Linked DNA regions of Homo sapiens: regions 1, 2 and 3 are each reported to be linked to region 4. The links are microRNA targets in miRTarBase. Many come from high-throughput screens and were not tested one by one. Region 4 holds a microRNA gene; each other region holds the end of a gene's coding sequence.
Evidence for each region. Region 4 holds the annotated microRNA hsa-miR-5582-3p (UAAAACUUUAAGUGUGCCUAGG, at 3,368-3,389, opposite strand). A microRNA usually pairs through its seed, bases 2 to 8, with sites in the 3' UTR of a target mRNA and lowers its output. Matches are read on the target gene's strand: a 7mer-m8 pairs with bases 2 to 8, a 7mer-A1 pairs with bases 2 to 7 and ends in A, and an 8mer does both.

Region 1 (7,812 bases), not on the chromosome of region 4:
AAGACGGGTCTTGATGTTTAATATTTAATGCATTAATGAGAAGCACACATTACTCTATGAAATTATTTTAATCGTTTGAAAACTGTTTTGTAGTACAATTGGCTTTCTTTAAAATCCTGTGTATTTTTTAAAAGCTTTTAAAAATACAATTTTGAAAAGGGCTCCATGGGCTTCATGCTGGGGCCAGAGGGCTCCCTGGGAGCTAAAAGATGAAGAAGCCGCGGAAATTCGCCATCTGGGAGGAGACCACCGTCGGGTGCCCGCCATCCCCTTCCGCCGGAACTCCACTAAAGAGGACTAGGTGTTAGCGCTGGCGCGGGAGGCCGGAGCAAGGTCTTTAAAGGTCTAAGGTGAAATTCCGGGTGGGAGCTCAGTCAAGCCTCCCCTACCCAACTGGGAATCAGTGCGCCAACCGGAGCACGCCCCCCAGGCGACACCGAGAGGCGCGGAACTCCCAAGCCTAGAGGGCGTCGGAAGTGCATCCCAGAGCGGAGCAGCCAGAGGGGCGGGGCGTCGCGGCGCTGGGGCCGCGCCCTCGGGTATCCAGAGTACGGCTCTTCCAGGCCATGTTGATGACCCAGGGTGGAAGCCATTGGAGAGTTTTGAGAGAAGAAGGAGGTATTTTTTTTTTTTTTTTTTGAGACGGAGTTCTCACTCTATCTCCCAGGCTGGAGTGCAGTGGCACGATCACGGCTCACCGCAACCGAGGGAGGTACATTTTAGCGGGATTTCTGTGAGAGGCATTCGAACCAGAGCGACTCCATTTTGAGTGAGGGCTAGGAAAACGAGGCCGGGACTTTTGCTGGGCTGCATTCCCAGAAAGTCAGGCATTCCTAGCCTCTAGATGTTTATGGTTAAGGGAACAAATTAATAATGTTTACTAAACAGACCCAGACTTGGGAGTGTCTAGATGTCCCCATATCTGGAGAACAAAGGCATTCCAAATTTTGCTTTAAAGATAATAATATCGATTCTTACAAAATATAATAAGAAAATTAATCCTTTATCACAGACCCTTGTAGCAGAGCACATCTCCCCATACTTACAGGTATGTATCTAGGGTGGACACTTTCCTCCGCGTTTCAGGAACACCCTACTCTGTCTATGGAGTAGCTGTACTTTCACTACTTAACTTTCTTAATAAACCTGCTTTTACTTTGCACTGCGGACTCGCCCTGAATTCTTTCTTGCGGGAGAGCCAAGAACCCTCCCTTGGGGTCTGGATCGGGACCCTTTTTCTGTAACACAACAACTATTGAGAAAAGAAGGTAGTGGTGCAAGAACAGATACAGAAAAATAAGTTTCCCTCCCTCTTCTTTCCAACTCTTCCATGCTCAGTGCCTCAGATGTGAGGGTCAGAAATTTGGTTATTAAAAACTCTAGGCCGGGCGTGGTGGCTCACGCCTGTAATCCCAGCACTTTGGGAGGCCGAGGCGGGTGGATCACGAGGTCAGGAGTTCGAGACCAGCCTGGCAAAAATGGTGAAACCCTGTCTCGACTAAAACAAATACAAAAGATTAGCCAGACATGGTGGCAGGCGCCTGTAATTCCAGCCACTCGGCAGGGTGAGACAAGAGAATCACTTGAACCCGGGAGGCGGAGGTTGCAGTGAGCTGAGATCGCGCTAATGCACTCCAGCCTGGGCGACAAGAGTGAAACTCCGTCTCAAAAAAACAAACAAGCAAACAAAAAAACCTCTAGATCACCCAGGCTGATATATGTCTAAATTTATGTTTGTCTAAATGTAAAGTTAAATGAGAACAATACTACTCAGCTCATAGGGTTTTCGAAATAAAATTTTTCATGTAAATCACTGGGCACACAGTTTGGCAACAACACTTAATAATTCTCTTTTATTATAGTCAGAAACCTGATATAATTTGGTTATTCATCTTAATTTTTTGATCCAACAATAATTTATTGAACATCTACTATGCACCTAAGATGACAGCAAGAGGGGTGAAAAAGAATAAAAGTAAACAACTACTATGCACATCTATATGCACTATCCATATTCTCTTAACATCTTCGTAAATGTTATTATTCTTACTGGAAGCCTTTTCCCCACTCCTTGCTTGACCAGCTCCTTTCTGTTTTCATTTTGCTGGTCATATGTCAACATACTCCAGGAAGTCCTCCCTAAGGCACCTTCATGCCCTGGCATCAGGGTTTGGGTCTCTTGCTGTGTTATAACAGAGAGCACACTACTGTATGGTGACCTATCTCTCTATCCCATTCAACTTTTTTTTTTTTTTTTTTTTTTTTTGAGATGGAGTTTCACTCTGTCGCCCAGGCTGGAGTGCAGTGGCGCCATCTCGGCTCTCTGCAACCTCCGCCTCCCCGGTTCAAGCGATTCTCCTGCCTCAGCCTCTTGAGTAGCTGGGACTGCAGGGATGCGCCACCACGCCTGGCTAATATTTTGGTATTTTTAGTAGGAGACAGGGTTTCACTATGTTGGTCAGGCTGGTCTCAAACTCTTGACCTCAAATGATCTGCCCGCCTTGGCCTCCCAAAGTGCTGGGATTACAGGTGTGAGCCACTGCACCAGGCTCTCATTCAACTTTGAGCTGAGAACAGGGAATATTTCTTTTATCTTTGATCCTAATCTGTTGTCAGGCATAAAGTGCAGATAAATGTTTGCTGTTTATCAAATAAAATGGATTGGGAATAGTTGAGCAGATGAAGGATGGTAATACGGCATGACAAAGTAGAAATGCCAGCAATTCACTATTACAATGGAAAAAAATGCTATTATGTAATTCCAGTTTTACTATATATGCTACTTACTGGTTTTAGTAAGGGCTCCATATGGAGTGGCCTGGGTCTCAGTTTTGTGGAGTAATCGAATTGTCTTTTTTCCTTGTTTTTCAGTGGCGATGTAAGATTCTGGGAAATATGAATCTTTTTTTCAAATCTTCAACAGAGCTTTATGCATCAATATGCTAATGAGGTAAATTGCACTACTAGTCATTTCCATAAAGTATCTCTAATTCTTTTCAAAACCTTGCAAAATAGATAATAGTTCTTGCTTTGTTACTGAGGAGATTGTGGCTCAGAAAGGCTAAGCAATCATCCAAGCTTGGCATTATTTACTGCCAACTCTCTCAGACCTCTTCACCGTTCCATACCATGTCCAAATCATCAACATGTTTTGCCTAGATTGCTGTGACAGCTTAGTCTATTGCTCATGCAGCAGCCATACTCACACACACACATATATAAAACACCTTAGATTGTGCCATTTCTTTGCTCGAAACTCTAATGGCACCAGGCATGGTGGCTGATGCCTGTAATCCCAGCACTTTGGGAGGCCGAGGCGGGCTGATCACTTGAGGCCAGGAGGTTGAGATCAGCCTGGCCAATATGGCAAAACCCCGTCTCTTCTAAAAATGCAAAATAATAATAATAATAAAATTAGCCGGGCCTGGTGGTAGGTGCCTGTAATACCAGCTACTCGGGAGGCTGAGGCAGGAGAATCGGGGGCGGAGGTTGCAGTGAGCAGAGATTGCGCCACTGCACTCTAGCCTGGGTAACAGAGTGAGACTCCATTTCAAAAAAAAATGCAGAGACACGGCCGGGCGTGGTGGCGCACGACTGTAATCCCAGCACTTTGAGAGGCTGAGGCGGGTGGATCACCTGAGGTCAGGAGTTCGAGACCAGCATGGCCAACATGGTGAAACTCCGTCTCTACTAAAAATACAAACATTGGCCGGGTGTGGTGGCGCGCGCCTGTAGTCCCAGGTACTCGGAGGCTGAGGCAGAAGAATCGTTTGAACCCGGGAGGTGGAAGTTGCAGTGAGCCAAGATCACACCACTGCACTCCAGTCTGGAAGACAGAGTGAGACTCTGTCTGGGAAAAAAAAAAAAAAAAAAAAAAAGCAGACACCAACACCTAGACTACGCTGACCATTTGAAAAAGAAATTACAGGTATAATAAGGACTAAGAAGAAACAAAATTGTTTGTATACACAGAATATATGGTTGTCTATGTAAAAAAAACAAACAAACCCACAAGAATATGCAGATACAAGAATGAGAGGTAGCAAGGCTGCTGGATACAAAAATCGAAATCAACATTAGCTAAAAACAGAAAATGTGGTAACTAAAAATATACCATACGAAGTAGTGTTAAAAAGCATAAAGTCCCTAGGAAATATTAACAAGAAGACCTTTATGGAGAAAATTATAAACTTTATTGAAAGATATTTCAAAGGCCTAAGTAAATGAAGAGCTGTACCATATTCATGTATTGGAAGACAACATTGTAAAGATGACATGGTTTACCAGATTAATCTATAAATTCAATACAAATCCAATCAAAATTTCAATGCTCTTGGGTTTGTTTGATTTATAAATTGTTGGTCTAATTCTAGAAGTAATATGGAGGAACAGTTGGCTAAGAATAGCCAAGACACTCCAAGGAAGAACAATTTTGTGGTGATACTGGAGACAGAGGTGAAATTGGTTACAATTATGACAAAATGTGGAGGCATCTTGGTTTTTATCAGACCTTTTCCTAAAGTTGCAATAATCAGGACTGTACTGTACTGCTACAAGATTAGACAAATTGATGTCAGTCAGAATAGAAACCATCAAAAGACCCACACACATACACAAAAATTTAATTTATGAAAGAGGCAGTGTTACAAATCACTGGGGAAAGGATGAACTTTTCAGTAAATAGTGCAGAGACAACCACTTCGAATATGAAAAATGTTAAGTTGAATTTCTAACTCATAATTTTCACAAAAATCAGTTCAGGACAGACTAAAGACAAATGTGAAAGGCAAAACTATAAAATTTCCACAAGGCAGTAAAGAATATATTTATGACTTTGGGTAGGAAAGGATCTCCCCCCAAACCAATTTGTATTCAGCTTTATATGATACTTTTTAAAAACATTTACTTTCAGCAGGAAATAGGCAACAATCTATAACATTTTACAATTTCCAAACTCCCCTCCTCCAAAAGTCACCGTAAAAGTTAACAAGATATGTCGTTGCTGTTTTGAACAAGAAAGATTTTCAGAGAGGGTGGACACTTCACATGAGGCATGTATGAGCTTTTCTCAGGCCCACTTTGACATGGAGGGACTAAAGTAAAACCAGCAGGATGAATCCACAAACTGAAAACAGGAATCTTGGCTCTTTTAAGTGACACCATCTCGATGTCATCAACAGAAAGCCTGAGTTTTGTTACCTAACACAGCTGATTTTAGGGTTGCCAAGGCCACATCAAAACTCTCGGTTTAAGGAAGTCAAGTCTATGCTGATGGCATCGGGGAAAGGGGAGACACGAAGTTTTGGTTCCCCACACTGTAAGGCTTCCGTGCCAAAGTGGCTGACACGTGAATGTCAGAGAATCTCTCCTGGGAATCAAGGGAATCAAGAACAATCTTCAAAAACCAGGACAGAAAATCCTATTTTCCCTTATTTCAATTCAGTTTCTGAGATACACCCTATTAGTGGTACTTGCCCTTTCCACAAAAGACAACAAGGAAGTGTCCTGTGTGCTAACAACATAACTTAAAAAAGCCAAAATTCTACACTTTTATAAAACTTGATTTAAAAAAATAGTATTTCAAACAGTAGAGTCACTATAAGTACAGAGCTCTCAAAAATGTACATTTCACTTGGCATCCCCAGTGCCTTCCGCTTTCTGGGACTGGAGTGTAGAGGCATCTCGGTTTTTTGCAGGGTTGTTCCCATCCTTTCCAGCATCTGCTTTCCCCTTTCTCCCTTTGGGAAGCTTCTCTCCCTTCTTTGCAGAGGCCTTTTTAGGCCTGGGCTCTGGTTTTGGAGGAGCTGGTTTAGCAGACAACCGAGCTGATCTCCTCTGTGGCTCATCCTTCACCTTTGCTTTATCACCTTTAGCATCTCCTTTTGCCTTTCTCTTGGGCATGGTAGCAGCAGTGTTCGCAGGTGGCTTGAGCAGTCCTGTTGGGTGCTTCTGTCCTCCTCACGCTGTTCCTGGAAAGATGTCTTTAACAAGACACAAAAAGCGTAAACCATAAAGGGAAAGACTGACGAATGTAAACGTTAAAAATCAAATTGACTATATTGTTAATAATTCGTGTATATCAAAAAAGATAGCATAATAAAAGTAAAACAATAAGTACCAGCTTGGCAAAGATATATGTAAAATATATAATGGACAAAATGTTAGAATCCTGAATACATAAAGCATTCCTATAGATCCATGAGGAAAGGACAAAATGAAAATTTTAAAACTATGGCAAAAAATGTTAACAGGTACTTCTTGGAAGCATGAGTGAGGAATAAGCACCTAAAAATATATAAGAAGTACATATTAAAAGCATAGGATATAACATTTCATATCTATCAAACTGAGGAAAACCAAGTTGTCTGACAATATCAAGGGCTCAGCTGATATGGAGCAATCAAAACCCTTATGTACTGCTGTGTGTGTGTGCCAATTAGTGTATTTGCTTTTGGAAACAGTGGTTATTTGTAAAGCACTCTGCAAACAGTGGTATTGTGTAAAGCAATTTTACTTCTAGGTGTTTACTTAGAGGGATTCTTGGAGGTGTGGACAGGAGATCTCCACAAGAATGTTTCTAGCAACACTGTAATTTCAAAAACCTGTAAATCACCCAAATGTCCTTCAATAGTAGAAGGGATGCATATATTTTGGTAGTATGTATAAAAGGGAATACCATTCAGCAGCAGAAACAAATAGATTACAGGTAGGTTCAAAAACGAGGATGAATCTCAAGAATATAATGCCGAAGAAAAATAGCAAGTTGCAGAAGAATATGTACACTATAGATCCATTTACACATGTAAAACTATGACATGTTGAGGCCACAAACATATAGTAAAACTTAAAAAAAAAGGGATAAATAAAAATTGGACAGTGGTCATCTCTTGGGAGTTGGGAAAGGGATGTAGTTGGAGAAGGCATGGAGGTTAGTCCAGAGATGGGGGAGGTTGCATTCTCTTCTTTAAACTGTAGGGGAAGCACATGGCTGGAGTATTACCTATGTCTTACACAGAAAAATTGTATGTGTCTGCTCAAGAATTAATAAAAGTACTAAAAAATGTGGGTAGCCCAGAGCACAGATTGAGAGCCACACAGGTAGGAAATGGAAAATAGTTTGAGTTTGAGTAATTAGGACTTAGGCCTAGGGCTGGCATTCATGGGCACTGTGTGACTTTTTTAAAGCTTTTGTCTATCATACCTTCTGCCCCACCCTTGAAAACATTTACTGGGAAATTCTGTAACCTTGTGAGTGGCCACCATTCTACAATGTTATTATTATTTTTTTAATCTTGTCTCCAAATTGCTCCAGTTTTTTTTTTTTTTTTTTTTTTTTTTTGAGATAGAGTCTCAGAGTCTCGTTCTGTCACCCAGGCTGGAGTGCAGTGGTGCGATCTCGGCTCACTGCAACCTCTGCCTCCCGGGTTCAAGCAATTCTCCTGCCTCAGCCTCCTGGGTAGCTGGGATTACAGGCGCACGCCACCATACCCAGCCAATTTTTGTATTTTTACTAGAGACAGGGTTTCACCGTGTTGGCCAGGCTAGTCTCGAACTCCTGACATCAGGTGATCCACCTGAGAATTGCTTGAACCTGGGAGGCGGAGGTTGCAGTGAGCCGAGATTGTGCCACTGCACTCCAGCCTGGGGGACAGAGTGAGACTCTGCTTCAAAAAAAAAAAAAAAAAAGGTAATGGTGCCACTGAGACATACAGTTCTACTGATCTAACTACACCTGACCTGCTCTCTTCTGAAGAAATCCTTGCCTAGACATTACATGAATTTATTGCTAATTTTTGTCTTTTTCCCTTTATT
Region 2 (7,952 bases), not on the chromosome of region 4:
GAAAAATACAATAGCCATTCAAAACACTATACATTCTACAGTAATTACAATTTCTACTCGTAATATTCCATGAGTTGCCCAACTTTACTGATAAACTCTAATGCTATCTGTATCTAAAATAAATGATAGGATGTATATTAATACCTTGAGGACTCCTTCCCACAGCAGAGGGTGCAGCCCCAAGCTAGAGAGGAAAATCATACAAGAGAGTCTTGGCATCACCTTTCTGTACAACCAGGTTCCCCAAGCACCTGGCTCCTTCAAAATAATGGAGATAATCAAACAACATCAGTTGCCTCCCTTTCTTGTTTCATTGTATCCTCTGAACTCTGCCATAAACTCCATTATGCATGCCAAAACTCTAAAATGTGGAACAACATTGTTTCTCAGAAGGCATTGTGTTACTGAAGAATCCAGGCTCAGGTTCGTTGGAAAGGGAATGCATTAGGAGAGATTTTCACCTACATAGCATCTTTGGTGTGTCAATACTCCAGTGAAACCCTGCCCACATTCACCTCTTCCTTTGACCTTTCTAAGGAGTTAAGGGCCCTGCTCTATCATTCTCACTACTATTCCAGTTAAAGCTCATCAGTTCCCTGGGAGGTGAGATCTGGCAAAATATATTCCATCTAAGGATCACAAGCTAATGACAATGTCAAATAATTAGGAAAACTCAAATTTGCTTATTCTTGTTTACTGTTTACCTAGAAGTTGGCGTTAGAATGATTTGGATAACATCAACATTAGTTTTATTTCATGAATTATTAAAACCTTAGATTGAGTCACAGTGAACTTGCAGGGATATTTTAATTCAGTATTGTTTGCAATCAGCACAGAAATAATGGAAAACAATTTATGATGAGACATTTTTAGTAAAGGTGTCATTTTTATTATAATAACATCAAAAATAATCTCTCTAAATAAGATGGAGTTTGTCATGTTAACTAAATTAAAGCATCAATTTTTTATAGGCAACAGGAAATATGACTACTGAATTCTTATTCCTATAATAGAAGAAAAGTATATTAGAAATTATCATTCCGAAGAAATGGAGACATGATGAAATGCATGCAAATGCCATAGTCAATTATAAACTAGAAATAACATCTTAATAAGGGACTGATGTTGTCAAATAATACTTGGCTGCTTTTCACATCAATATGAAAAAGAGAAAAACAACACAGGCTGCAAAGGCCCAAGGGAAAATAATACCTCTGATTTGTCTTCCACTGATTGCATTATACAAGGAAATTGCTAAACAATATCTTTGTTTTTTTGCCAATGCAAAAAAAAAAAAAAAAAAAAAAAAAATATATATATATATATATATATATATATATATATACACACACATATATAAAACTTAAAAATTCGTGTCCAGATGCGGTGGCTCATGCCTGTAATCCCAGCATATTGGGAGGCCAAGGCAGGTGGATTTCCTGAGTCTAGGAGTTCAAGACCAGCCTGGACAACATGGCAAAACCCCATCTCTACAAAGAATTAGCTGGGCGTGGTGGCACGCACCTAGAGTCCCAGCTCCTGGGGAGACTGAGGTGGGAGGATTGCTTGAACCCAGGAGGCAGAGATTGCAGTGAGCAGAGATCGCTACTGTACTCCAGCCTGGGCAACAGAGTGAGAACCTATCTCAAAAAAAAAAAAAAAAAAAAAAAAATCATATTATATCCTTTAGTACACACATGTATGCATTTTTGTTGGGTACACACCATGGAGTGGGATTTCTGGATTATAGGATATGTGTATGTTCATTTTAGTAGAAAATACAAAAACTGTTCAAACCCATTGTATCAATTTATACTTCCCAAGTAGTGGATGTAAGCTCCAGTTTCACTATATCCTCTCCTGTATTTTTACTTGGCATTACCAAGTAAAATATTTGATTTTAGTCATTTCCTAATGAATATTAAAGTTGAGCCACTTTTTACAGGTTTTTTTTTTCTTCCCCCGAGACGGAGACTCTCATCGTCACGCAGGCTGGAGTACAGTGGCGCGTACTTTCGCTCCAACCTCCGCCTCCCGGGTTCAAGCGATTCTCCTGCCTCAGCCTCCCGAGTAGCTAGGATTACAGGCGCCCGCCACTACGCCCAGCTAATTTTTTGTATTTTTAGTAGAGACGGGGTTTCACTATGTTGGTCAGGCTGGTCTCGGACTCCTGGCCTCGTGATCCAACCGCCTTGGCCTTTCAAAGTGCTGGGATTACAGGCGTCAGCCACTGCGCCCGGCCTTTTTACAGGTTTAATGGCTACTTTTCTAACAGTTTTTGTGAAGTGCATTTATAAGCCAGTTTTTTCTCTGAGTTGTCCGTTTTATCCAAGAGCAAGAACACGGAATGAATGATAATTCTACATATGCGGGGCATTTGTAGGCTTTTAAATTCAAGTTCAGTTCAAATGAATTAGGTTTAAAATAAATGTTTAAAATAAATAAATTAGGTTTAAAATAAATTAGGTTTAAAATAAATAAATTAGGTTTAAAATAAATTAGGTTTAAAAGAAAATAAAATAAGTGTTTTCTTTCAGTTCAAAGTAATTATCTACCTACTTTTTCAGCAGAAGGGCTTGTGTCACTACACAACAGTATAAATTCACAGTATATAGCTTTGGAGAATGATTGGGACAAGAATTGCTTGATGACTGAATAATGAGTTAAGTGGACTGATGTTTTATGTTTATAGTGTGTTCCTAATCATTACTGGAGGCCAAAACATTGTTCAAAATACAATGTGAAGGCCATTCTCTTTACCAGAACTGCTAGAAATAAGTGGTGGGAAATATTATTTGATGAGCTATCTAAGACGAGAAGAGAACACTGAGGATTGTGCTTGAGAAGATACAGAGGATCTAAATGGCTCACCAAGGCTCTCCGGCACCAAGAGGTAAATGCAGGACCTCTGTTTGACTGAGTTGAGTATGAATTTCTTGAATCAGAGAGAAAAGATGAGGCTGACCTCTACTAACAGTAGGCTTCCTGGGTCTTTCTGTTCTTTCTTTCTTCTGATTAAATATTAGATAAATATGCCAATATATTGGTTTGAAGAGACACAAGCATATTAACTTGCTAGGGAACACCTGTATCTCTTTCTCCACATGTACCTAGTCTAATGTGTTTGGTTTTAGATTAGTACATACGTTTGGCAAATATATAATATTTTTTGTGTATGTTTACAAAAGTAATACTGTGCTATGGATCAAAAAGTTTTGACCAGTTTATACATCTATTAACAGTGTATGGGTGAACCTGTAACCCTACATTTTGATGACCACTAACATTTTAATATTTTAACATTTGCTAATCTGGTAGATAGATAAAAGTATGATTATTTTATTGTGAATTTATTTAATTAAGAGTGTCTTAGAACATCTTTTCATTATTTACTGGTCATTTTCATTCTTTTCTGTGAACTTCTATTCATGTCTTTTGGCCATTTTTCCATTGGGTTGTTGACTCATTGATTTGTAAGAGTTTCTTTTCAGTGAAAGGAATTCCTTAAGTAGCTATAACATTAGCTGTATGTATTACATATTAATTTCTAAGTTACTCATCTGTTTTGGGTACTAGATACAGTTGATTTATCATATCTGTGGGTTCTACATCTGCGGATCAAAACTATTTGGGGAAAAACAATAAAATAATACAACAATACAAAAGTAATGCAAATTAAAAAACCAATATAGTATAACAACTGTTTACACAGCGTTTACACTGTATTAGGTATTATAAGTAACGCAGAGATGACTTAGAGTATACAGGAGAATGGTATAGGTTTTATGCAAATACTATGCCGTTTTATATAAGGGACTTGAGCATTCAAGGATGTTGGTATCCATGGGGTTCCTCGAGCCAATCTCCCGCGGATACTGAAGAAAAACCGTATATCATATTTTCATGTAGTGAATGTATCATATTTTTAATTTTATGCTTCATGAGTACATGCATCTTTGCCGTGATGCATTCAGAAATTATGCTTATGTTCTTCTTTTTCCATCCTTTGGGCAGGTTAAAACCCTGCAACAGAACTGAATAATCATTTTAGGCTCTCAGCAACTTTTATTCTGCCTTATCATCTTGCTGCTGATCTCATTTTTGATATTGCCATTCAATAAATATTAACTGAGACCCTACTATATGCCTCGGCCTGTGCTATAAATTGGAGATGAGAAAAACCACTGGCTAAACTAGAGAAACATCGTAAAATACAGTGTACCCTAAGCCACTCACCTTGACCTTTACTAATTTTGTGAAAAAGTACTACTTATTAAATCATTTTATTCTCATCATCCTTCAAAAAATATTCAGCTTGACCCAGAAGATATTTATAAATATTTTTAAAAATTATTTTTCACTCAATTACATTCCTAGAAATGTTAAATGTCTACTTACATCATTTTTGTTGCATGCAGGACTAGCACTATATTTATTAGTACAGGTTACACTGCCATAGCAAGAAAACGCCTTTTTAGGTAAATTTTCCTTTAGGCAAATGTCAGAATTGGGTCACATGGTCATAATCAAGTTGAAGTAAGGCTGAGAAATCTCATGCCTGCCTGGACGGCCACATTATCTGCTAAAATATCAGTGAATTCTATGATTAAAAGAAAATAGAGATATTCAATACTAAGGGACAGCAGCTTCTACCATAGTCCATTTGTGTGGTAAGTCAGTTGTCTCTTTAGTTTTTTCATTCCACATGAAGGATGAGAAAAATTCATGTGGGATGAATTGTTGGACCCTACATTGTTCATCCTTTAGGGCCCAACAATTCTGAGCTTTTGGCTAAGAATCTAGAATCTCTACATGAGGCAAAGTTCTTTCCATGGGTTCTAACGTAGCTTCTTCTTTTTCAATGACCTATATAGATTAGTAGATAATGCAACTGCCACTCAGTGTATCAGTATATACTGATATACAATGGTATATTGGAAATAAAATAGAATGAAATAATAGAATAGAATAGAATGGAATGGAATAGAATCAGGGTAACTGCGATAAAAATTATTACTTAGAAAAGGGAAGAATGGAAAACATAAAAACTCACTTTTCTGTAGCTTTGCTGAAATCTTGCAGGACAAAAATTGCTAAGATTCTCTAGTGGCTACCTGCCAGTAAGTAACTTGATATCGTTAACTTACTTGAACTTGGCTCTGCTCCCTGGGATACTCCCCTGTGCATTGTCTTTTTGATCTCCTGTGATATTAAACATGTACTGTACATGTACATGTATCTAAGTGGATAACAATACAATTCATTTTGTCATGAAAGAGCTGTGTTTTCAAAGGCTTTTAATAAGGTTAAAAAAAAGATAAAATTCCTCTTAGAAAATAACACTTAGCAGTTAATGACATCAAAGTCATATTGACTAAAGAAGGAAAATAGCAACCAATTGTTAAAGCCACCTTAACATAAACCTTATTGCAAGTATACACATCTTTTGAACACAATCTATAGAAAAGAGAATAACTTCCAAGGCATTACAACTTTTTCTCTGGCATGTTAAAAAACAACTCTGACTAATGGCTAATGCATTATAAAATTTCCTATCTGACAAATCTTTCTAGATTATGCATAGTATTTTACTTTTGAAAGGTCATAAAAAAGATATAAATCAGTTTCCATAAGAGCTAATATTGGCCCATAACGAAAGTTTCCTTCAGGTTATTTTAATGTATTAACGTAAGAAAACTCCAGGTGAAGAAGAATTTCAAGCCAAAACTAAGCATTAAAAAATAGGCGTTTGGTTGAGGTTAATTTTTTTTTTTTTTTTTTTTGAGACAGAGTCTCTGTTGCCCAGGCTGGAGTGTGGTGGCGCAATCCTGGCTCACTGCAACCTCAGCCTCCTGGGTTCAAGCAATTTTCCTGTCTCAGCCTTCCAAGTAGCAGGGACTACAGGCGTGCACCACCACGCGCAGCTAATTTTTTTGTATTTTTAGTAGAGGCGAGGTTTCGCCATGTTGGCCAGGCTGGTCTCGAAATCCTGACCCCAGTGATCCGCCTACCTCATCCTCTCAAAGTGCTGGGATTACAGGTGTGAGCCACCGCGCCCAGCCTTAATTTTCAAAAGACAAATAAGCAAAAAGCTTTTCCCGTTCCTCTCCCAAAACAGCAATGAGATAACTGCCTTGTAATGTTTGTTTGCTTTTTACAAATACCAATTTACCACTTGCTGGAATCCCAGCCCAGGAACCAGCCTGTGAATGTGGGTGGCTCATGGCCCTGTTTTATGATGACAATTGGTGTCCTCTTGTCTCTTCCAGAAGGGTCTGTCTCAAGGTACATTTTGGCTAAAAAAAGTTGTAAAGACATATAAATTCAGTTAGTTTGGGTTAAACTAAAGTAACTGCAGATTGAAAATTCTTCGAATAAAAGTAATGAATTAAATTTCCAGAAGAACAAATAAATATTGGCTACATTGAAAATGAAAATTCTTCGAATACAATTCTTCAAATCAAAGTAATAAATTTCCATTGACCAGGTAGACAAATACAATTTCTTTTTGATTTCTCTCGTCTGCCATGAAAGGCAACATGTGAATCTCATTAATGCCTGAAAGAATTCCAAGTTTTATGGAATTGTCCTTGTGGCATAATTATTGTTATACGTTTCAGTAAAAGGAAAATTGTGCCAGAAAGAACAGCATAGTCAAAAGGAAGTTTAAAAAATCTGGCTTATCACAGTCATGGAGGTTTTACTCTTATAATAAAACAAGGGTTGAAATTAATTTAAGTTTTCAGATTAAATTGATATAATTCTATTCTAGATTAGATAACAAAACATATTGTTTTCTTGTGCCCATTTGGAAATTCTCCAGTTCAAAAAATCCCATTACTCTTTAGTTTTGAGGAGGAATGCTAAGCTACTTCTTGATTTTGAAATGTATTTTTGTAAGACATGGTGGCAAAGAGCAAGCCAGACACTCGGTCATAATGGTGCCCGGTTACTGCTATAATGGTCCATCGATTGAGCTTACCAGACTTCAGAGATTCTTTTTTCTCAACTTCATTAGCATCTTTGCCAATCCAAATAAATATCTGAAAAATGAAACAATAACAATATGTATGATTTCTGGGATGTTGACTCAGTGCTAGGCCCTATGTAAAGTGCTTCACACACACATTGCTCATTCAATCTTCACAATATCCGCAGAAGTTAGGGACGTGGAGGTGGTGGCCCAGAGAGGTACCATCACTTTCCCAGTGTTCACACTCATCAGGAGACACCTAAATCTACATCCAGCCTGTTTCACTTCAGATTTCACACTTGGATATTTTATGTTTACATGGTACTTTCTAGTTTGTAAAGTGATCTTTCACAAAAAAAAACAGATTGTCTGGGTGGACTTTTTTTTTTCATCCACCCCCTAGGGTGTGACAGCAGTCGAAGGAAACCAAAATATTTCACCTCCGAATACACTTCTTTGACATATTTCGAGATGGCTGTTCAGAGGACTTGCAAACAGAAATAGCCCTGCAAATCTGCCTTTTGTAGGGGAAGATCTGCATCTGTAGAGAATCTGCAGTGGTGCAGCCGGACTTTCTTTGAGGCCCTCCCTTTTCGGGATCTAGGGAAGATTAACTGAGAGTATCACACTCTTAAAGGTCTGAAAGAAACATTTACCATCTATACTTTATGTGAGGTTTTATCCATAACAAGACCATCTTTCCTAGCCAGGCCTCTTCTCTCCCTCCCATAACCAGTTTTGCCATCCTGCAATCCCCCATTCTTTCTGTAACTTCAAAATGGTAGAAAAGCATCAACCATCCAGCCATTTATTTAGTTCTTGCATTCTGTATGACTCCTGTGAACATTAATATATTTGTATGCCTTTTCTCCTATTAATCTGCCCTTTATCAACTGATTTTTATGTGAACCTGTGGACAGTGAAGGGGAAATTTTCCCTTGGCCCTTACACAGTCATTATCCCCATTTCCTAGAGGTGG
Region 3 (7,952 bases), not on the chromosome of region 4:
CATAGCAAGATGATTTGAGTGTGGTTTTTAAAAGATGGCACCAGACCTCTAAATGGTAATTAGTGTTAGCAATTTTGGTTACTATTTCTTCAGAAAGGGTAGTGGGGTTGGTGAAAATGTAGATTTTGTGGTGGTGATTTATCAAGTAGTGTCATAAACTGTTAACTTTGCCTTCTTTTGTGTGACCAGTAACCCTGTGACATTGAGACTGAAATATGGAGCCACCAGGGAGGTTGGGTATCGTGGGTCTTATTTTGAAAGTTCTCCAGTTGCTTTTAGAGCAAAGATGGAATGGTTCTTTTCACTTGGTTTATTTTGTCTCTCCCTTTAGGATTTGGTCAACACTGGACTCAGCGCTTTCCTTTTCTTTATTGCTTCAATCGTACTGGCTGCTTTAAACCATAGAGCCGGAGCAGAAATTGCTGCCGTGGTAAGCAAACTCAAATGGTTAAAGCAAGCTGATCTGGGGACCTCCTGTGACCTGCTCGCCTGTCCCTGGCATGTGTCCTGCTCCCCCTCCTGTGGCTTTTCTTTGCTAAAGATGATGTTACTGGGCCAGTGGGGGTCCCAGTCCCTTCAGTGCTGTGGTTCTCAAAGTATGGGCCCCAGAACAGCAGCCTTGGCATCTGTTAGACATCCTTAGGCTCCGCTCCAGAGCTACTGAGTCAGAAATGTATTTGAAGTAACCCTCTGGATGATACAGATGTGCTCTCAAGTTCAAGAACCCCTGCTTTGGTTCGTTTCCAACACAGTCCTTGATGTCTAAGAGCCTTATCTGCCTGGGGAAGGGAGGGTTCTTGAATGCAGTCATGACACCATTTAGCAGTCACATGACATTTCAAGGTGGAAATGCCACGGCAGGTGGGGACCAGATAATGTAGGACTTCCCCTCTCCATGCCCTGCATTTCTGTATTGTTCTCAGTTTATGAGGAACAGTTATCCTTTTTGTAATGGGGGGATTAAAAGGTTTATAAATGATTAAACGAACTGCTCTCCCAGGTGCCACTCAGGCGATTTGTAAGTCTTAATAATTAAAACTCTGTGCTTCTTACTCTGGAGCTGCTTACTTGGAGCTGCCCCATGAGAGGCAGGTGTGGGATGGGGGCTGTGATGTGGAACATTGGCCCTGTGGCTTGATTTGGGACCCACATGCGAAACCCTGATTTTCTGTCTATGTTACATTTTGTCTGCACTGTATTTTCTCATCTGGGACCAGAGGCCCTGAAGTTGCAGTAAAAGAGGTACTTTTGTGATTTATTTTTTTATACGTCCAAAATACTTCAAAAGAAACCTTAGGCTGTCTTTAGGTCAGGCAAGATTTTCTGTGTGTCACATGACTAGAGACTCAGCTGTGGTGTGACAGCCACACATCCAGCAGGGCTGGGCACAGGCTTCCCTTTGACTCTGAGCCACCCCGTCATATGTATTTGAAACAAGACTTTAGATCAAATGGGGCTGCTGAGAGGGGGAAGAGATCAAGGAATGAAGGCACAGGGTTGTAATGATCAGCTGGCAGAGCAGGAAGGGGCTGCATGTGGCTTGGGTCACCACAGAAGCCTTGAGGGGCCAGGCCACGTGCCCGAGGACTAACTGTGCTGGTGTGTTTTTAGATATTTGGCTTCTTGGCGACTGCGGCATATGCAGTGAACACATTCCTGGCAGTGCAGAAATGGAGAGTCAGCGTCCGCCAGCAGAGCACCAATGACTACATCCGAGCCCGCACGGAGTCCAGGGATGTGGACAGTCGCCCTGAGATCCAGCGCCTGGACACGTGAGGACCTGCCTGGATCCTCCTCCCTCCCGTCCTCGTGCCTGTCTCTCAGTCAAGTTTTCTTTCCCTTGTCCTGTCAGATTTCCATGTGATTCAGTTGAATTTTGTCCTCTTTGGTAAAAGTTCATTTTGGGAAAGGGTTTCCCGAGTGGCCCAGTGGGCGGGTCCGCGGTGGAGTTGGGAGGCCCACGTTCCTCAGCGTTTGGGGCTGTGGAGCAGCCGGCGTCACTGCCCAGGTCCACTTGAGGTCTTACCTGCCCTGAAGCACAGGCTTCCTTTGACTCTGAGCCACCTTGTCGTGTGTATTTGTAACAAGACTTTGGATTAAATGGGGCTGCTAAGAGGGGGGAAATATGAAGGAATGAAGGGACAGCATTGGAACGGTCAGTCGGCAGTGGTTCTCAGGCAGCCTTAGGCACCACCTGCTCCAAGTCAGTGTTGAGTCTGCGTGCTGGGATCCAGCCCACTCCTCATCTTCCATGCCAGGGCCCCCAGGCAGCCAGCACCAGCCCAAAGGCCACAGGGCTGGGGAAAGCTGATGTCCTGTTAGGATGGCTCCCAGGGACCTCTGACTCAAGGAAGGGTGACCTTTTGTTTCCTACTCTGCTGAGAAATCACTTGATTCTTCCTCAAATGAATCACCTTCCTGAACCCCAGATTCTTCTCCAGGAATATGGGGGCCATCTTGTTATGGGGACTATCTTGTTTTCCAGTTTCCTGCCTACCCTAAATACTTTGAGGCTGAATTGCAGATTTTCAGTCATTTTACCTTCTCAGGTAAAAGCCATGAAAGAAACAAGCCTACTCCACCAGCCAAAGCACTTGCCCATTTGCTGGCTTCATGAACCGCAGGTGGGAGGTGTTTGTGTTAAAAAACAGCATGCACACGCGTGCGCGCACACATGCACACACACACCCCTCTATTTTAGGGATGTGTGCTAATTTTCTAAATGCCTGCAAAGAGTTCTAAAATGATTCTGAGCAGATTCGTCTAGGATTTGAAAATACTTGAATTTGCACCAGAACACACCCTTCCACCCATGTTTCAGAAGGCACTAATTGTCGCTTTGGGCGCCTCAGTGTCATAACTGTAGACATCATTCTTGGGAGTTGTTGGGGGGAAAAATCCTAGCTACTTAAGGTTTCTGATTGATTCTTGATAAAGTGAAGATTATTGTGTGTGGTGAATGAGTTCAGTGAGTCCCCATGATGCAGTAGTTTTTTTAAAAAATTAGAGAGTAATTATATCTTTTATGGAAAAAAGTTGTTTTAGTTTGTCAGGTTTTCCCTCTTTGAACTGTTTTTAATGTTTACAAACCTCACTTTAGCTCTAACATTTTGTGTTTAGCCCTCACCAAAAAGCACTTACTGTGGCAGGAAGATTTTGCAGTAACATGGAGAAATCCCCAAGATCAAGTGCTGACAAATGTTGACAGCTTTAGCAGCGTACTGTGTAATAAATAACTCCGAGGGGGCGGCGGGGGGTCTGTGCAAGAAAGCGTCACCTTATGGACATGTGGCGTCTCATTCCCCAGAAAAGGACAGCATCTGAGCTCACAGTGTTGATCAGGCAACACTGCTGGGCTGGGGGTCGGAGTTGGGGTTAGCTTCCTGCACCAACACCTTCAGTACGATCTGAGTTGGGAGCAGTGTCCCAGGCTATGTGGCTGAGCACCACGTCTGCCTCAGGGGCTGACCCTGCTAGCCTGTTAACAACTCGTCTCCCCTCTGCTCCCACAGAGAGGGCAGCCAGGCCAGCTCACAGCTGGGTGTGCTGCCTGTCAGGTCTGTTGAGTGTGTTTGCAAAGTCAAAATTGGGCTTATCTCTCTTTGAGAGTTCCTTTTAAAATAGGGCCACAAAGGCTCAGCCTTGCATTAAATGGGGCCCACTTGGAAGGACCATCCTGAGCTTTATCAGAAATCTCCTGCTGGGAATCATGTTACTTGGCCCCCAAAAAAGGCCATCTTTGAAGTGAGATTGAAAACAAGAACACCATTCAGGTGGGCTTGTTGCCCAAGTTTTCCCAGCTCACTTCAGTAAAACCACTTGATCATCTGGTGAAAGAGGGGGGCAGGTGGTTGGCCTCCTGAGGATATGTTGTCAGCTGCAAGAAATAGTTCTGAAGTCACTGAAACTAAATGCAGATGAATGACCAAAAAGGATGACACGCCAGAGAGTGACTTAGGAGTTAATTTGCATCTTCGTGATAGACTCTTCAGAATTATTTATGTCCCTGTAACTATTTAATATCCTTTGTGCCGTGAGGCTCCTCGGTGGTTTTGTAAATGTTCTCCTTGTATTTAATTAACTCCCACTAGAACCGGAAGTGGTGCTATGGACGCTTTCTAGTTGATGTAATGTGTGGTTGCACATGTCATCATGTATAGACCACGTGGTGACGAAAGTTCTGGAGGGAATAGGGTTATCCAAGGTGAATATGAAGACGCCTATATTTTTCTTATATTGCCTCTATATGCAAACAGAAGACAATCGATATCTGGGGGCCTTAAAATGACCTCTTGGCAAATTGAAGGAAGCGTTTTTGCGTTTAATAGTTTCAATAGGGACCAATATCAGTTTGGTTTGGGGCATTTGAAGGCTGAGCGACCTTAGTTTTTCTCAGTGTTCTGGTGGGACGATATTGGTTTTCACATTTAAAGCAAAACTTGAAGAAACTGCAGTTGCTGTGTGCATTTGGGTTTTTTCCTGGACACTGTACAGCTGAAACCCTCAAGCATTTGGTGGAACCTCTGGTGGTTTTAGATGGATGCAAACACTGATGTCCTCAGAGAAAGTTTATTTTGGCACTGATTGGGTGGATTTGGTATTTTTTCCCTCTGATTCTCTTTGATATCCTTCTTTCACACTGCTGAAGGCATGGGAGGGAAATATGTTTTCCCTGCCTTAAAGAGGGATTACAGTCATGAAAGGCTGGAGATACTTGTTGGCCCCACATAAAGCTGGGAAGAACAGATGCAGTTTCAGATTAAAATCTCGTCAGAGAAGTTTGATTTGAAGTAAACAGCCATCCGAGGGAGGTGACTTTTGTCTACAGAAAAAGCAAGAATGTGGCAGCCTGCACAGCCCCAATACACATCTTCCTTGGCAATGTGAGCTGAAGCCAGCATGGGCAAGTCCGGCCCAGCTCTGAGCGCTTGGCCCTGGGAAGCCAGCGGCACCCCCAGCCCTTCGGGCCCTGTTACTGTCCCCTGGCAGGAAGGCTCACGCCTGTGGGCAGCCAGGGAATGTGTCTGACCTCCACCCTATGTCGGGTGCTTCTGGGACAGCTTCGTGACTCAGTTGAAAACATTCTGACTCTCTTCAAGTTTGCAGTTACATCTGTGGTTCTTGGAAGCTGTCCTAGTGAGTCAGCCTTGGGTTAAGCCTGAGGAGACCAAGCTCCAACACCTTTGTGCACTCATGTACGTGAATTCTTGCTTGCAGTGAATGAGACCTGAACAACCCTAGTGGGTGCCATGTCCTGCGTGTGGCCCAGGCGTACCTTTTCTTGTAGATTCACATGAGAAACCCGTCACCTATCCATGTGCTCTGAGAGGTGGACTGAGGTCTAATCCCTTTCTGTGCCAGATTTTCTGTGGGTTGGTCTTAGCACCTAGGAGATGAATAGAGCATGGAGACACCTGAACAATTTAGTGATTCTGCAAGGCAGTGATGATTTAAGGGTTCCTATTGTCTCATCTGTGTTCAAAACAAAACAGTCATGAAGTCTTTGTGCCACTGCCTGACTGTCATCTTCTCCAGATCTTGTTTACAGAGTAATAATGACGTTAAACAGGTATCAGAAAGGGGAAAAAGTTTCTAGGCCAAGAGCTGCTGGTGGATTCTCTTGAGCAGAATAACAAGTTGCTTCCTGCTCCAGGGACTGCCATTAGCTTGTGAAGTCTCTAGGTGCCTTGTTATTTCCTAGTGAAGTTGCAGAATCCAGGGTTTTTTCCAGGTTTGTCTTATTTTATCAGCACCCACGTCCAGGCCCAACAGCTTGGTAGGCTGGTGAGGTCCACACACGGCCAGGTCTGGGAGATAAGGGAGGAAGCAGTGGCCTGGAACACCCCACCTGTCTGCTATCAGCACTAGACAGCTCAGGCTGTCTTGGAAACGTGTACTTTGTTAACTGCCTTCCTGTCCTCTTGTCTTTGAAAGCTGTCTCGCGTTCCACAGTCAGCTTGAGGGCAAGAGTGGGATGCTGGGGACAGGTCTTTCCCGTCCTGTGGGTGAGCTCCTGGCATCTGGCTCAGGAACATGTGGGTCCAGCAGGTGACTCTGAAGCTGGCTTGGCTGCCATCTCAGACAGGACGCAGGCCTGACACCCTCAGCTTTTAGCTTTGTAAACTTCCCTGGCGCTTTGTAGAATCTTGTGTTTCTTCTCTTCTCAGCAGATATCATTCAAGTCACAAGAACTGTCTGGTTGAGAAAGTAATTTAAAATATTTGACCTTTTATGTTTCTTTTATTTAGAAACTGTGAGAGAAAATACCGTCAATATCTGTTAGGTCTAGAAAAATTTTCTTCCGAAAGTGAATGTTCTGTTTAATTCTTCTTCATGCAAGTGAGTGGCATTTTGTACACTCTTTAGCTTGAAGCGGAGTGGGTCCTATTGTATTTTCCCTTCTTTTGTCTGGAATATATTCTTTTTCCATTTGGATACAGTTTTTCAACCTTTGGGATTTTTTTTTCCTTTCTAGTTTTTCCTACTCCACAAACGTAACAGTAAGGAAAAAATCACCCACAAACCTGCTGAGTTTGAATCACTGGCAACTTGCCTAGAAAAGTTCAGATGATGGGTCCTTGAACTGTGTATCTATTTCATAGGGTAAGTTTGTTGTCTATGTTTGTTTTTTTATGCTGAGGCTTTAATTCAGGTGACTTGCTATCTAGACACCTGGGGTGGCGTGTTTTCTTTGGGATGCATAATACACAAAGGCCAGGGAGCCTTTGGCTTGGACCCCCAGGGAGCTATTGAAACTTTTAAAGTTTGAGTTTAGGAGTAAGAACATATCTCAGACCACCTTAGTCAGCTTTGCTGATGGGATTTAGGGCCAGGTCAGAGTTTCTTTTCATAACTGCCTGAAAAGAGAGATGGTGTGAAACAAGATTCTGATAATGGTTTGTGTGAGATTTGATCATAGTCTAAAACTATCACGTCTGAGTTGCCTTAGGATGACAGTGCTGACACCCAGTAGGAAGTATCCCATTTTTATCAGGAAAGTCAGTCACGCGTAGGGATGGTGAGGAGACGCGTAGGGATGGTGAGGAGGGGAGAGGAGGGAGACCTGCTGGTGCCCTTGCACCAGGGTGAGGCCTGACTCACGCTGCTTCCCCCCACAGGCCCTGCTTTGCTTGCCTGCTTTTTCCAGAATCGATTTTGCAAGCTTCAAGATTCTGTTCCCCTCTTCGCAGAAGTGAGGAAGGCAAATACTCAGGGTTTGAAGGGAGACCTGGCCGGCCTGAGGGCTGGCAGATGTGAGGGCAGGACACCTGGGATGGACTCGTAGGCTGACCCAGGCCCAAAGGGGGCTGCCTGTTCCCAACTCTTTCACTCTGTAACCCATTTTAAAATGAGTTTTTGAATCTTGCCTCAAATTGACCTACTTGGATAAAATCAGTGCTTTTCCTAACTTGATTTTGTTTGACGTGGTTCCCTCTAAGAGAATGGTAGGAATTGAAACTATTTGTATATGTTGAAATTTGTAGGGGTTCAGGAACCCATGGCAGAAACACTAAACTATTTATTTACAAGTATGACTATTTTTTTTTCAAAGTAGGCAATTCTTTGTATATTTTAAGGCAAATAATCACTTCACCTCTGGTGCCTTCCATGCGTCGCATAAGCACTCTTGTCAATCATGGAATTGGAAAAAAAGATGTACATTTAGTTAAACAAGATAACACTATTTTTGTAGCATGATTTTAGATTGTGTCCTTTTAATATTGTTTTCAACAATGGTAGTTTTGAGGTTTTGGCCATTTTCTCTTTACACTTCGTATGTATTTTAAAGAAGAAAAAAAACAAAAAAAATTCCCTGGCTATTCCTCTTTCCTCTCTGCTGCTGCTTCTCCTGCATCTTGTTCCTGCTTATTTAAATAGTCTGAGAGTAAGAGTATATTTCTGTGAAATAATTATAAGTCAGTATAATTGCATTTGGCATTTTTTAACCACTT
Region 4 (7,952 bases):
AGCCTAACATGGAGAAACCCCGTCTTTACTAAAAATACAAAAAATTAGCCTGGCGTGGTGGCGCATGCCTGTAATCCCAGCTACTCGGGAGGCTGAGGCAGGAGAATAGCTTGAACCCGAGATTGCACCACTGCACTCCAGCCCGAGCAACAAGAGTGAAACTCCATCTCAAAAAAAAAAAAAAAAAGAGGTCAGAGCAAGTGAGCAAGAATCAGTCAAAGGCCAAGAAGGAATAGCCAGTGAGACTGGAGGAAAACAAGACAGCATGGAGAACTGGAAGCGAAGTGAAGAAGCTGTCTCAAGGGCAGGGAACAATTTATTTACCATTGTCAAATACTGATGATGGGTCAATTCAGGTGGCTAAGAATTGACCACTGGATATAGCAATGGGAAGGCCATTTGGTGACCATTAAGTATTGAGGTTCATGGATATGAATTTAAACTAACCAAAACTTCAGGTTCCTGTGCTAGGAGCTATTTTGAGCTTATTCCTGGAGCTATAACAGGAAACCATACCTGTTGAAGTGGAAATACGACCTTTGCCCTCCCTCTCCATCTCAATCACCCGAAGGCCTCTTTCGACATAGCTCTGGAAGAACTGTGAGGAATTTTTCAGAAATGGTTCAATGTCAGCATCTGAGTATTTCTTCTTATATTCATATAACTCTGCTAGTCCCTGGTGAACAGGAAAAGGGAAGAGGTGGGGATGAATGTTAGTGTCCCTTTACCATAAAGCAGACCCCTATTCTGCTTAACCCTTTCACTCTCACCTCTTTAGTGTTTTCTTTAGAGCCAATCTTCTTAAAAATCTCAGCTAAGAAATCATTCACTTTGGCCTTTGATGATTTTTCATCCTGAAAAGTTGAAAGACATAGGAAGAATTGGTTAGACTTGAGTTATTAATTAGGAACTGATGGTTGGATATGAACAGAAAATATCTCAAAATCTGGGCCTTATTGGTATGTTCCTACAGATAACAGATGCACCGATGATGCAGGTCTTGCAGCAGAAGCACTAACATTCTGTGTTACTGAATGCCTCCAGTCTCAGATTTCCACCTCAACTTGATGGAGAAGGAACTGACATATTCTTTCCATGTTAAGCAGAACTAGCTATTTATCTGGTGACCAATGCCTTAGGCATCTTTCTTGGGGACCAAAAAACACATGGTTATACTTAGTTTAGATTTTAAAATTTCAAGGTGGAAATGGTTACTGCACCACAGCAGGAGACTGATTCAACCAGTCCATGAGCCTTCACCTTGGACCTTCGGAAAGCATATCCTGGTGACCTACACCTTAGATAAGATCACTTCCGGTGTAGCCTCATGTCCCTCAATCTTTCAAGTCAGGCCACTCACTATTCGAGATGCTCCCTTTTCTGTTTCCTTATCAGACTTGCTCCCAGTCTGGTCCATACTGTGCTTCATCATCCGGCAGAGATGGGCCTCCAGCTCAGACTCGTTTTTGTTGTCGATCATCGTTAGGTGGTCCAGGATCTGAGGGAGACACATGCATGACTGATAGCACTGCCATTTCCATGATTTTCTCTCAAGCTCCCTCAGAGACCAGTTGCGATTCTTACTCACCTTGGGCCCTTTTAATTTGCATAAGGTGTGTAGCAGGGTCTTTAGGGTCCTTATGGGAAATTCACTTTTGCATTGCTTCAGTTTCTCTTTGGGGAAGACCTTCATGAAAATGTGGATATCCAGAAGAATTCTGTCTAGGTTAATGCTATTGATGGTATCAGGCAACAGTCGAACCATTCTCCAGAGACACTATTGAAAAAAGAATAAAAGAGTTAGGAGTGACTGAAGAATGAGGATAATTTGTCACCATTCATCTTCCCTAAGCTTTGAGCTCACTTCTAAAAGATGGCCAGGGCTATAAATGTGGCACATCATATCTTTCAAGTTCAGCTGCTAAAACATGAAAATTTTTAATCACTTCTACCATGACACCAGCTGAAGTGTGTCCAGTCATTCATCTAATCATCCATCTCTACTCCTTCCCACTCCCCAGAGCTAGGGGCCATCATTTAACCTGGTAGAAATTCTCTCTTGGGTTTCCTTCGTTCCTGAGAGTAAAGTAGTTCATGTTGCTTAACCAAATCTAATGCAAGGGGACAAAATATCTGATACTAATTCAGTGTAATAACAGTATTACAATGTTATAAATATGTTCATTTGGTCTCTTTCACAAAAGAGACCAAATATCATAGGGCTGTAGATATCTTTTTCCCCAAAATAAATGAAATCTGTTTCAAACTTCTTTCCTTTTGATCCTCAGAGAATTAGTAAAATATTTACAAAATATTTCCTCCCTTTCACTGTTTGAGGCCACGAACTGTTTAGGCCTGAACTTAGAATATAAATTGTAGGAAGGGAAAAACTGAAGACCAATTCATATATATATATATATATATATATATATATATACACACACACACACACACACACACACACACACACACACACGTGTATTATATACATATATAACATATTAAGATATACATATATAATACATATATACATATATATAATACACATATATATAAAAAACCATATATATATTTTTTAAGAGATGGGGTCTCACTGTTGCCAAGGCTGGAGTGTAGTGGTATGATCAAGCTCACTTCTGGGTTCAAGTAATCTCCTCAACTCAGCCTCCTGAGTAGCTGCTACTATAGGTGCATGCCACTGCACCTGGCTAAATTTTTAAAAATTTATTAATATTTTTATTACGAAAAATATATTTTCAGGTGTGACTTGGTTGATTTGAGCCTATGTCTTTCTTAGCTCCAATTCCTCTTTCCCCATACTTTTAACAAAGTGATTGCATCTTTGAAAGAAAAGAGATCAAATCATTTCAACTTCACCTTCATAACAAGCTCTGAGAATTTGGGAGAACTGGCTGTTGCTAGCAGGCTGTCTTGGAGCAAAACAAGTAGGGCACTGGAAGAAAAACCCAACACAACAGCATTAAGTTTCAAACCTGCATTCCAATTAGAATCAGCAGTTGAAAGGGCAAGTGAGATTACTCTATTCATCTAATAAACTGAGAGGTCATGGATCAGGAATTGTCCTGGACTACCTGACATTCAGTTAAGAAAATAAACATTGTTTAAGCCTTTTAAGTCACCACTTGGTAAGTGTAAGGTTTGTGACTCTATTTTTCATTGTCATTGGTAGCTGAGAAAGAATAAAATGTACCTGAAATGTACAAGAAAAATGTAACTGACAAACTTTACAGTCCTATTATAGAAAATGCATGATATTGGCTGGCTAACTAAGTATTTACTAGTTTTAGCTATGGTCTCAGGCTAAAATACCTTTGGTCCATGATGAAGAAGAGTAATAAATCAACTTCCTAGGCACACTTAAAGTTTTAACTGATATAGTTATAACTGATGTAGCTATAACTTTAAGTGTGCCTAGGAAGTTGATTATGATTGTTAGGTTGCCTAGGAAGTTGACTTACGGACATTATGGTTTCTAAGTGTAAACAAAAGCGAGGATGCCCCAGGCTCTATTGGCTGAGAGTACAGATATACCTCAGGATGTTGGTCTGGTCTGACTTCTCCAGAACCTTCACCACCAAGAGGTTCACAGAGCGGATGACCTGTTGTCCTTCCTCAAGATCTTCAATCCGAGAATCCAGCATTAAGGTGATGAGGCCATGCATTAGGTCTTTTAGTACTCCAGTGGAGGCCTCCCGGGCAAGGCTCTCTATCTGAAACAGCTATCCAGACATACTTGTGTCAGGGAGGTGTAAAACTCAATATAGAGAGTAAAGAAATGTGGGTGGCATATTCTGATAAATATTCAATTATGTTGTATTTTTTTTTTGAGACGGAGTCTCCTCTGTCGCCCAGGCTGGAGTGCCAGTGGCGTGATCTTGGCTTACTGCAAGCTCTGCCTCCCCGGTTCATGCCATTCTCCTGCCTCAGTCTCCCGAGTAGCTGGGACTACAGGCACCCACCACCACGCTGGGCTAATTTTTGTATTTTTTTTTTTTAGTAGAGATGGGGTTTCACCGTGTTAGCCAGGATGGTCTCGATCTCCTGACTTCGTGATCCACCTGCCTTGGCCTCCTGAAGTGCTGGGATTACAGGCGTGAGCCACCGCGCCCGGCTATGTTATATTTGTAAAAATTCAGAGTATTAAAGAAAAAACAAAATCACCACACTCCCCCAAGCCTCTAGTAATAGGCAAAATTAATCGGTGTGCTTCTAATTGTGAAATTTTTTGTTTTTTTTTTGAGACAGAGTCTTGCTCTGTTGCCCAGACTGGAGTGCAGTGGCACGATCTCGGCTCACTGAAAGCTCCGCCTCCTGGGTTCAAGCAATTCTCTGCCTCAGCCTCCCGAGTAGCTGGGATTACAGGCGCCCGCCACCAGGCCTGGCTAATTTTTTGTATTTTTAGTAGAGATGGGGTTTCACCATCTTGGCCAGGCTGATCTTGAACTCCTGACATTGTGATCCACCCGCCTTGGCCTCCCAACGTGCTGAGATTATAGGTGTGAGCCACTGTGCCTGGCCAAAGTATTTGTTTTTACATGTGAAATTATTTACTGTTATGCCAAATTTGTAATTTCTGGCTAGTTGGTGTCATTAAGTCCACCCTTTTAGCCCCAGTTTAAGAAAGAATATTGAAATCTGAGTGAGAATGTCTTTATTATCCTTATAATCTGCTCTACAGGTAAAACATTAACAAATTTTTTCCCTTTTATTTTTAGTTGACATGTAATAATTGTACAAATTTATGGAATACAGAGTGGTATTTCAACACATGTATACAATGTATACTGATCAAACCAGGCTAATTAGCATTTTTAATAGAACCATACTTATCTGTGGAAAGGCAGCTATGGCCTACCATGCCTGATGAAGAAACTGGCCGGAAGAAGCTAGGTAGTCTGTAAGCATGTTACTTTATATCCTAACAGTAAGGTGGGATGGAGTGTAGCCAAACATCCAATGGAAGCCATCAGTAGCTTGCTATATACAATGCATGTAAAATTCTACCAAGTGACACAGGACTCACTGCAACATCTGCATGGACTCTGGCTTTTGAACCTCTGTAGGCTGAGAGATTGATGGGAAGCTGAAATTCTGCAGAGGTGCCCTTACCGAAATCATGTTGCCAATGATACAGCTATACAACTTGATGATCTCGTCCTTCTCCAATTTCTCATCTGCCATGTGTGTGTTGTAGATGAGTCTTAGCTGCATAAAAGTGGCTATCAGAAACTGATCAATATGGCCGGACATGGCTTCAGCTTTGTCTTCCTGTCTCAGGACCTCATCGATCTGATAACAAAAATTTCAAGATATATTTTCCAAGCTTCATACTTCTAAAATAGCGGAAGACACTATATGAAACTTCTCCATAAGAATATTTATTAGCAAAGTACTTCTAAAGTCTTACCTTAAAAAAAAGCCCATTTACTTATTTATTTTATTCATTTATTATTTTGAGAGAGAATTTTGCTTTCACCCAGGCTGGTGTGCAGTGGCACGATCTTGGCTCACTGCAACCTCCACCTTCCGGTTTCAAGTGATTCTCCTGCCTCAGCCTCCTAAGTAGCTAGGATTACAGGCGCCTGCCACCACGCCAATTTTTGTATTTTAAGTAGAGACGGGGTTTCACCATGTTGGCCAGGCTGGTCTCGAACTCTTGACCTCGTGATCCACCCACCTTGGCTTCCCAAAGTGCTGGGATTACAGGCGTGAGCCACCGCACCTGGCCCCATTTAAATATAAATAACTAGTCCTTAGGGATTCAGTCATTCGGCAAATATTTACTGAGCAAGATACTAGATACATTAGTCACAGGTTCGATTCTAAGAGGCTCATTGTCTAGTTCAGGGAATAATAATCCTTATGTTTGGCTGGGCACAGTGGCTCACATCTGTAATCCCAGCACTTTGGGAGGCCAAGGTAGGTGAGTCACTTGAGGTCACGAGTAGGAGATCAGCCTGGCCAACATGGTGAAACCCCATCTCTACCAAAAATAGAAAAATTAGCCTGGCATGGTGGTAGGCACCTGTAATCTCAGCTACTCGGGAGGCTGAGGCAGGAGAATTGCTTGAACCCAGGAGGCGGAGGATGCAGTGAACCGAGATCACGACACTGAACTCCAGCCTGGGTGACAAAGCGAGACTCCGTCTCAGAAACAAAACAAAAATACTTATGTTTAAATGTTCAATTTATTAAAAAGAGTGCTTTTTAGACTCTTCAGACAGGGCTGATATTAAGATCTCCATTTAACAGATGAAAAGTGAGGCTCAGAAAGATCAGACTACTGGTCCAAACTCAAAAACTCAGCTTTCTCACATACTGGTCCAGTGTTCTGTTGCAGTACACTGGTTGTCACTAATGATAATAAGGCATTGTTTATATCTAATCTATTGGCAAGTTCTGTGGATTCTACTTCCAAAAGAAACCCTGAAACCATGACTTCCTTCCTCTTCACCATTATCATCCTAGTGGCACATAATATCTTTCATATAAATTTTGGCCACAACTTCCTAAAAAAATTGCTGAATTCACTCTTGCCATGCATATAATCTTATCTCTAGAGCAGCCAGAGTAATTTCTTCCACAATTAATACAAACAAAAAACCTGCAAAGGTGAAAAAAAAAGTACATTACAGAAACGTTGAAAGGGTAGTAAAGGAACTCTTTTATCCTGAATCATTTAAGAGTAAGTTGTCAATCTGATGTTCCATACCCTGATACTTTAGGGTATACTTATTAACAACAAGGACATTCTCCTTCATAAGTACAATAAAACCATCAACATCAAGAAATTAACATTGATGTTACTACCATCTAATCCTCAGACCCCATTCCATTTTCTCTAATGACCTCAATTATGTCCTTTAAAGCAAAAGACCAGTCGAGAATCATGCACTGCATTTACCTGTCATGTCTCTCAGTCTCTTTATAGTGTAGGACAGTTCTTCAGTGTTTCCTTGACTTTCTGGACCTTGAATTTTTTTTTTTTTTTTTTGAGACAAAGTTTCATTCTTGTTGCCCAGGCTGGAGTGCAATGGCACAATCTTGGCTCATAGCAACCTCCACCTCCCGGGTTCAAGCTATCCTCCTGCCTCAGCCTCCGGAGTAGCTGGGATTACAGGCATGTGCCACTATGCCCGGCTATTTTTTTTTTTTTTTGTATTTTTAATAGAGTCAGGGTTTCTCCATGTTGGTCAGGCTGGTCTCGAACCCCTGACCTCAGGTGATCTGCCCACCTCGGCCTCCCAAAGTGCTGGGATTATAGGCATGAGCCACAGCGCCCAGCTTTGACCTTGAATCTTTATAAAATGTCCTTAATTTGTATTTCTCTGATGTTTCCCATGATTCAGGTTATGCAACATTAGAATTATCAGCAAAGTGATGTGGAACTGTCACTGGATCCTATCAGTGTAGCACATAATTTCCTTTTATCACCCTGACGCAGTGGCTCACGCCTGTAATCCCAGCACTTTGGGAGGCCGAGGCAGGTGGATCACCTGAGGTTGGGAGTTCAAGACCAGCCTGGTCAACCTGGTGAAACCCTGTCTCTACTAAAAACACAAAAATTAGCTGGGCGTGGTGGTGGGTGCCTGTAATCCCAGCTGCTAGGGAGGCCGAGGCAGGAGAATTGCTTGAACCCAGGAGGCAGAGGCTGCAGTGAGCTGAAATCGCCCCACTGCACTCCAGACTTGGCAACGGCGAGACTCCATCTCAAAAAAAAAATTACAAAAAAATTTTCATTTTGTCACATTGTTGTTGATTCACTTTGGGTTGTTTTATTTTTTATTTTTTAAATTTTATTTATTTATTTGTTTATTTTTTGGAGATGGAGCGAGATCTCGCTCTGTCACCCAGGCTGGGGTACACTGGCACGATTTCGGCTCACTGCAACCTCTGCCTCCTGGGTTAAAGTGATTCTCCTGCCTCAGCCT

Region 1: miRTarBase lists HMGN4 as a target of hsa-miR-5582-3p. Seed matches in the 3' UTR shown: 8mer at 5,554-5,561.
Region 2: the mRNA of SCIN is a reported target of hsa-miR-5582-3p. Seed matches in the 3' UTR shown: 8mer at 1,358-1,365.
Region 3: miRTarBase lists CMTM4 as a target of hsa-miR-5582-3p. Seed matches in the 3' UTR shown: 7mer-m8 at 1,827-1,833 and 7mer-m8 at 3,789-3,795.

The regions. Positions count from the first base shown.
Region 1 is chr6:26,543,296-26,551,107 of GRCh38, reverse strand. HMGN4 (high mobility group nucleosomal binding domain 4) reads right to left here. Exons shown (of 2, transcript NM_006353.3): 2 at 4,175-5,981. The coding sequence starts at 5,901. The coding sequence ends at 5,629. Among named protein-coding and RNA genes, the nearest start is that of TRA-CGC1-1, 6.3 kb to the left of the region's middle. RefSeq lists enhancers at 190-239, 224-758, 1,018-1,972.
Region 2 is chr7:12,650,932-12,658,883 of GRCh38, reverse strand. It overlaps SCIN (scinderin), which reads right to left. Exons shown (of 16, transcript NM_001112706.3): 15 at 6,983-7,043; 16 at 1-6,296. The coding sequence ends at 6,169. Among named protein-coding and RNA genes, the nearest start is that of ARL4A, 33 kb to the left of the region's middle.
Region 3 is chr16:66,615,882-66,623,833 of GRCh38, reverse strand. It overlaps CMTM4 (CKLF like MARVEL transmembrane domain containing 4), which reads left to right. Exons shown (of 4, transcript NM_181521.3): 3 at 332-430; 4 at 1,612-7,952. The coding sequence ends at 1,776. Among named protein-coding and RNA genes, the nearest start is that of CMTM3, 15 kb to the right of the region's middle. RefSeq lists an enhancer at 3,451-3,952.
Region 4 is chr11:46,749,758-46,757,709 of GRCh38, forward strand. It overlaps MIR5582 (microRNA 5582), which reads right to left and starts at 3,435; the gene lies at 3,368-3,435. CKAP5 (cytoskeleton associated protein 5) reads right to left here. Exons shown (of 44, transcript NM_001008938.4): 36 at 5,131-5,310; 37 at 3,553-3,740; 38 at 2,878-2,953; 39 at 1,589-1,777; 40 at 1,361-1,498; 41 at 771-854; 42 at 517-676.